Linked DNA regions of Homo sapiens. The protein of the gene in region 2 interacts with the protein of the main gene of each other region in a biochemical or structural test. Each region holds a gene or a part of one and is shown on either strand. Other genes may lie near its edges.

Evidence for each region. Proteins that work in one complex are often made in the same cells at the same time.
Region 1: the proteins of ATP5PO (region 2) and ERCC6 form a complex in vitro, tested with the Homo sapiens proteins (one large-scale study listed by BioGRID).

The regions. Positions count from the first base shown.
Region 1 is NC_000010.11:49,532,619-49,536,272, forward strand, and holds part of ERCC6 (DNA excision repair protein ERCC-6), read right to left. Parts: intron 361-3,654; 5' UTR 347-360; coding exon 1-346. UniProt on the Homo sapiens protein: Involved in repair of DNA damage following UV irradiation, acting either in the absence of ERCC6 or synergistically with ERCC6. Involved in the regulation of gene expression.
Region 2 is NC_000021.9:33,902,816-33,905,821, forward strand, and holds the end of ATP5PO (ATP synthase peripheral stalk subunit OSCP, mitochondrial precursor), read right to left. Parts: intron 1,207-3,006; coding exon 1,120-1,206; intron 825-1,119; coding exon 711-824; 3' UTR 638-710; downstream 1-637. UniProt on the Homo sapiens protein: Subunit OSCP, of the mitochondrial membrane ATP synthase complex (F(1)F(0) ATP synthase or Complex V) that produces ATP from ADP in the presence of a proton gradient across the membrane which is generated by electron transport complexes of the respiratory chain.

The DNA of each region.
Region 1 (3,654 bases), on a different chromosome or scaffold from region 2:
CATTGTCCACCTGCTGAAGCACTCCCTGTTCCAGCACGTCCTGGTCATAGACGTCCACACCCAAACCCTGCAGCTCAAGGGCCTGGGCGCTAGGCTCTACTGCCTGGATCTGATGTCGGTCGATGTGCAGCAGGGCTGGCCCTCTCCTCGGAGCTGCTGATGCGCACCCCACAGCAGAGGTGGACAGCCCGTCACCCACAGAACGAAAGGAGAGGTACTCCTCCACCTCCCCATCACCACCACTTTCTTGCTTGATTGCCATTTCTTCATTATTACTGACAGGTTGACTCTGTAAACAGTCTTGCTCCTGAGTTTGACTTGAGTGGGGGATTCCCTCATTTGGCATTCTCTACAGACTACCTAAAAGGAAAAAAATTTATAAGCCTTTTCGTTATATAGGATTCATTGTAGTTCTTAAATATTTTATAATTAGAGCAGACTGATTTCTCAAAAGATCAAGTAATAATCTTCCAACTACATAAATTCAAGTTTCCAAGTATTAATTTACTAAAAAGGGACAACGTATCTTCTTGAGTTCTGATAATAAATAAGAAAAATTAACCAGAAAAAGAAATGCAGTATCATCAACAAAGGACATTTAGGCAGCCAGCTAAGAAAGCCAGCCACCAAAATCCTGGGGTGATGGCCATGGAATATTCTTCAAAACAGCTGAAGTCATTTGGCTGCTGTTTTCCAAGTTAGCATCTTCATTTCATTATGACACAAATGATTTATAATATAGTGGCAAGATCAACTGTAATGCATAGGAACAGCGATGTTAGGAAAGAGCTTCTGTGTGAATCTGAGACTAGAAACTCCTAGGCTGAATACCTATCCAGTAAATAGGAGCTTTGAACAAATCAGAAGCTCAGAAGATTAATTAGGCCAGGCACGTGGCTCAGTCCTGTAATCCCAGCACTTTGGGAGGCCAAAGCGGGAGGATAGAGACCAGCCAGGGAAACACAGCGAGCTCAGGACTTCGAGACCAGCCTGGGAAAGATAATGAGACCTTGTCTCTACTAAAAATTTAAAACCTTAGCCAGGCCTGGTGATGTGCACCTATAGTCCCAGTTACTCAAGGGGCTGAGGCAGGAGGATCACTTGAGCCTGGGAGATGGAGGCTGCAGTGAGCCATGATTGCACAACTGCACTCTAGCCTGGGCAAAAGAGCAAGACCTTGTAAAATAAATTTAAAGTTTTTTTAAAAGATTAATTAAAATATTCTCAAAAATAGGCTGGGCACGATGGCTCACATCTGTAATCCCAACACTTTGGGAGGCTGAAGCGGGCAGATTACTTAAGGTCAGGTGTTTGAGACCAGCCTGGCAAACATGGTGAAACCCGATCTCTACTAAAAATACAATAATTGGCTGGGTATGATGGTGAGCACCTGTAATCCCAGCCACTCGGGAGGCTGAAGCAGGAGAATCACTTGAACCCAGGAGGCGGAGGTTGCAGTGAGATGAGATCTCACCACTGCATTCCAGCATAGGCAACAGAGTGAGACTCAATCTCAAAAAAAAAAAAAAAAAAAAACAAAAAAAAAACTCCATTTTAATACACAGTATAATTTCTCACCCATCAGGTTAGCAAGAATTCAAAGCCTGATAGATAAATCCAATACAGACAAGGAGAAGGATCCCCCCTCACATAGTGCTGCTGAGAATATAAATTAGTAAAGCCCCTTGTAGGGACAACTTAGCAATATCTATTAAATTAAAGGCACATGACCTTTGTCAAGCAATTCTAGGTATTTATTCCAGAGAACTAGTCACACACAGGTGCAAGAATGTTTAGTGCAGCACATTTTTAATAGTTTAATGTAACTACTAAGTATATTCTGTATACTGATATAAAAGCCATGTTAAGTGAAAAAATTCATGGTATGAACACACTTATGCTGAAAAAAGTATCTATCCTGCACACAGAATGATCTGGCAGGATACAAACTAAGCCTGCAAATCAGGATGGGGAAGAGAAAGCACAGGGAAAAATAAGGGGGAATGTTCACATTGTACTCCACATACTCAGGACCTGCTGCTTTAAGGAGAATATATTCACTATATTACCTATACAACTATCACATCTAATAAATATATTAAAAAGCAAAACGATAACCAAAAATCAGTCTTGCTTTTTGTTTAACTGTGAATAAGATTTCTTTGAGCACTGTAACTTTTCTGTTAAATGACAAGTTCCCCCAGTGGGCCCCACTCATCCCTTATTAAGTAAAATAAGCCCAGCAATAAAGCACCGGGATACAAAGAATTCAGCATCATCTACACCCGAGTGGCTATCCACTGGAGCAGCAGCATGTCAGTTAACAACAGAGCAGGGCAGGTCAGCTAGCCCGGGACACGGACAAGAGGTCACACGAGCATCGAGCGAACTATATATGGTGTCTGGGGCCCAAGAAATATCACGGAGGAACTGAGATTTGAACACATGGGCCATGCATGGTCTGATATATAGGAGGTGCTCAATATCTGCTGAAAGGAAGTGAGGTTCAGAGCTAAGTCTAAAATAATAAAAAGTTTGGTCTGGACAAATGAGTCACCAGTGAATTCAGTCACAAAAATGAGACTCTCAAAAAGGAAGCAGATAGGAAGCAGGACTGGCAAGCAGCTTACATGTAATCAGTACCATTTGCAGCATGCAGTCAGAAATGCAAATCTGAGCTCAAGGGAAAGTCTGGGTGACATGTGGACACATCAGCAGAGTGAGCAGTTCCAGGGTTCCCAAGGCTCTGACAGGTACCTAAGGTCATTTTGGAGGGTACGAGGAGGCTAACATTGGAAAGGTTAAAAAGTGAACAACACAGTGAGAAAGTTCCTTCTTTTGGGGCCTGCTGATTATTTTCAAGAGGAAGGCTCAGCTCACCTCACTTTCCAACAGAGAGAGCAGGATTCCAGCTCAGAGTGTCTGTACTAGCTGGCAGTTAACAATTCTGTTTTCATTTTTCTTATTTGTACACACATGAGGATTTCTTTTTAAGAAAAAAGGATGCCAATTCAACCAAAAATATTAAGTAACCATTTTTCTATTTCTGTAAAATAATATCAAAAAGCAATAGTATTGTAGTGTAAAGACAAGGTTAAAAATAAAGAAGTTTGGGGAAAACTTCTAATAATAAAAAAGGAGGAAGAGCGTCCAGTGAATGAGAAAAGGCTGAGTGAATTTGGATACCAATGGGTCACCATTTACCTTGGTAAAAGAAGTTTCAGGCCAGGCTTGGTGGCTCACACCTGTAATCCCAGCACTTTGGGAGGCCAAGGCGGGTGGATCACCTGAGTTCGTGACCAGCCTGACCCAACATGGTGAAACCCCATCTCTACTAAAATACAAAAATTAGCCAGGCGTGGTGGTGCATGCCTGTAATCCCAGCTACTCGGGAGGCTGAGGCACGAGAATCGCTTGAACCCAGGAGGCAGAGGTTGCAGTGAGCTGAGATCACACCGCAGAACTCCAGCCTGGGCAACAAGAGTGAAACTCTGTCTCGAAAAAATAAAAAAGTTTCAGTGGAGCGATAGGGCCAAAAACCAGACTGTAGTGGTTGAAATGTAGTTGGTGTGTAAGGAGTGGATGAGGAAATGGAGGCCACAAGAGAGTGGCCTGTCCTTTAAAGAGCTTGCCTCTGGCAGGGAGACAGCTACA
Region 2 (3,006 bases):
TTGGTTAAAAGGTGAATTGGGAGCATCTTAGGGACAAAGCGGGAAGGGGCAGGGGACCTACCTAAGGTAACTTTTGCCCGTTTGCTCCAGCAACGTGTCGGCGCATGGTGTTAGTTATACAGTGGTAAAAACATGGGCTGTAGGGCCTGACACCAGCTGTCCAGACAGGTGACTCTGAGCACATCTCTAGGGCCCCTCAATCTCTTTCCTCATTTGTAAAGTGGGGTGATGTCTCTCCCACCCGTGTGACAAGGCTGTCATGCAGCTTCAGATGTACATGAAATGGCCTTGAAAGCTACAGAGCAGCCTACAACTAGGTGTGTTCATGTTAGGATCAAGGGCAAGAGGCCTCCCTGGAGGGCTATGGATCAAACACAGATCCGATGATCTAGTAGGGACCAGGAACTCTGAACAAACCCTTAAAGACACGGGATTTTGGCAGGCAGGACCAGATAGACTTTGCTGAGTGACCATGTGTTAGGTGCTGTGTCTAACCAATTAATTCCTAAACATAATCTACTCAAACCAAATTCTCTAGGCCAAAAGGGCTTTTTGGCCTTTATACTCAGGGGATACCAAAAAAGGACATAAAAATAAAGCCTTCTACATTCCAGTTTAAAAGACAGTGAACATAATATGATCTGTTCTGGAAGCTTTTTATTGTTGCTCCAAGTTTAAGAATTTTCACTGATGGCAGAAAACCAACACTTTTAGACAATCTCCCGCATAGCCCTGCCCAGCTTCTGAATCTTGGTCTTGACAGACATGTCAACATATTTCTCGCCAATGCGCACAATCATTCCACCCAAGATTGACGGATCAGTCTACAAAAGAAGTAAGACTGGAAATGTGAAAACGCGCTAATCAAATGGGACACACAAAAAAGTGTTTTGAAAGGCTAAATGTGTTGCACAAATGTAAGAGGTTATAATTACACCTAGAAAAAGGCAAAAGTAAAACTGCACAGTCAGATAATCATTTAAATTTAAAATAAATACAAAATTTTAACTACAGAAAAATTAGTATAGAGTTAGATCTAATATTTCACTAGTACTTTCTGTAGCCATTTTAAGCTTAAAATAACCCGAGAAAACGTACCATAAATAATTTAAAACCTACCTTAGCCTCCAATTTCAATACTTGGCCTTGACTTAGGAAGCTCTTGAGGACAGTTTTTAATTCAGAGAGTGTGGCTTCTTCTAAAGGCTGAAAGGCAAAACCATCCTTTCAATTTAGATAAAGCAAAACAGAAACTTCCAGAGTTAAAATACCCCAGGCCCACATCACCAAGACAGGCCTTGTGAGCTCCTCCCTTTGCTACCTGGGCCCATCATGGAGCTGCTCTGCAGCATTCACTCCTTGTTCACGCTGGAGGTTCAGGGAGCACAGGAAGGCCCTGCCTCACAGCATCACCCGGGCAGCTCCCACTCAGCCGTTCAAGGACGGCCTGTAAATGCCACTCCCTCCCTGCCTCTGCTCTGTGTGCTAGCAGTACAACTTGGAACTAACAAGGAAAGGCCTTCAAGTTTCTAATGCCTGAAGATGCAGCCCCATCAATGCAGGAGGACACAGGCCTCTCCTGGGTGCAGCCCTGGGGACACGACATGCATCTATCATGTCCTTGGCTGAAAAGTTGCCATTTTAACCTGGTTTTACATCTTCATGTTTGCCTAGCTCTGCTGGCTGTTCATCTCCCCGCATCCACAGCTACCTGGAGCTCTGGCAGGCCACTCCACTCTCTGAACCCCAGTGAGAGAACCTGGAGCAGTTGGCTTTTCCTGAAGTCAGCTCAGCTCCATAACCTACTTTAGAGCAAGCACCTCAAATGTCCAGACTGCACTCTCCTCTCGGCCCCAACTCTTACTCCTGGTTAGTTATGTTATAGTGTTAAGTGTTCTAATGGTGAAAATGAAGAAGGCTGTTAAACCAAAGGCCTTTTTTTTGAGACCGAGTCTCGCTCTGTCACCCAGGCTGGAGTAGAGTGGCGAGATCTCGGCTTACTGTAGCCTCCGCCTCCCAGGTTCAAGTGATTCTCCTGCCTCAGCTTCCCAAGTAGCTGGAATTACAGGCGCATGCCATCACACCCGGCTAATTTTTGTATTTTTAGTAGAGACGGGGTTTCACCATGCTGGTCAGACTGGTCTCGAACTCCTGGCCTTGAGTGATCCACCCGCTGCAGTCTCCCAAAATGCTGGGGTTACAAGTGTGAGCCACCACACCCTGCTAAAAAGGCCTTTTTTTAACTTGTCATAAATCCTACCTCCCTGGCCCCTCCTCTAAGAGCCTAAAAAAATTTGGCAGAAAAATTTATGTCTTTGTAAAGATATAACAATATCCTTTTTTTGGGGGTGGGGGGTGCTGGTGGTGGCCAGAATCTATTCGTGTTCAAAACATGATTTACTGAGACTAAAAGGTTACAGAATTCTGAAATATACATACCCTCCACTGAGACATGTACCAACTGCCAGGTACCTGTCTATGCCAGGCACATTTCATGCCTACTATCTCCCTTCATGTGGGCAACCCTGAAAGGCCACCGGTCATTATGCCCATTTTACATATGAGGGAACGGAGGCTCAGGGTGGGTAAGAAACTCACCTAAGGCCACATCAGCAGGTGAGGACCAGCCCCAATATTTGAAACCAGTCTGTGTATTTCTAAAGCCTGTGCTCTTAGTCACTCATCAAGACATAACGTTTTTCAAACAGTACAGACTCACGCACCCAACAGTATCAACATCAAAAGCATTAGTAACAGTTGGTTCTAAAATCTTTTGCAAAAACAAGCATCCTTTAAAAGAAAATCATGGCCTTGTGGCTGTGCACGGTGGCTCACACCTGTGGTCCCAGCACATTGGGAGGCCAAGGTGGGTGGATTGGCTGAAGTCAGGAGTTCGAGACCAGCCTGGCCAACATGGTGAAACTCCATCTCTACTAAAAATACACTAAATTAGCCGGGTGTGGTGGCAGGTGCTGTAGTCCAGCTACTTGGGAGGCTGAGGCAGGA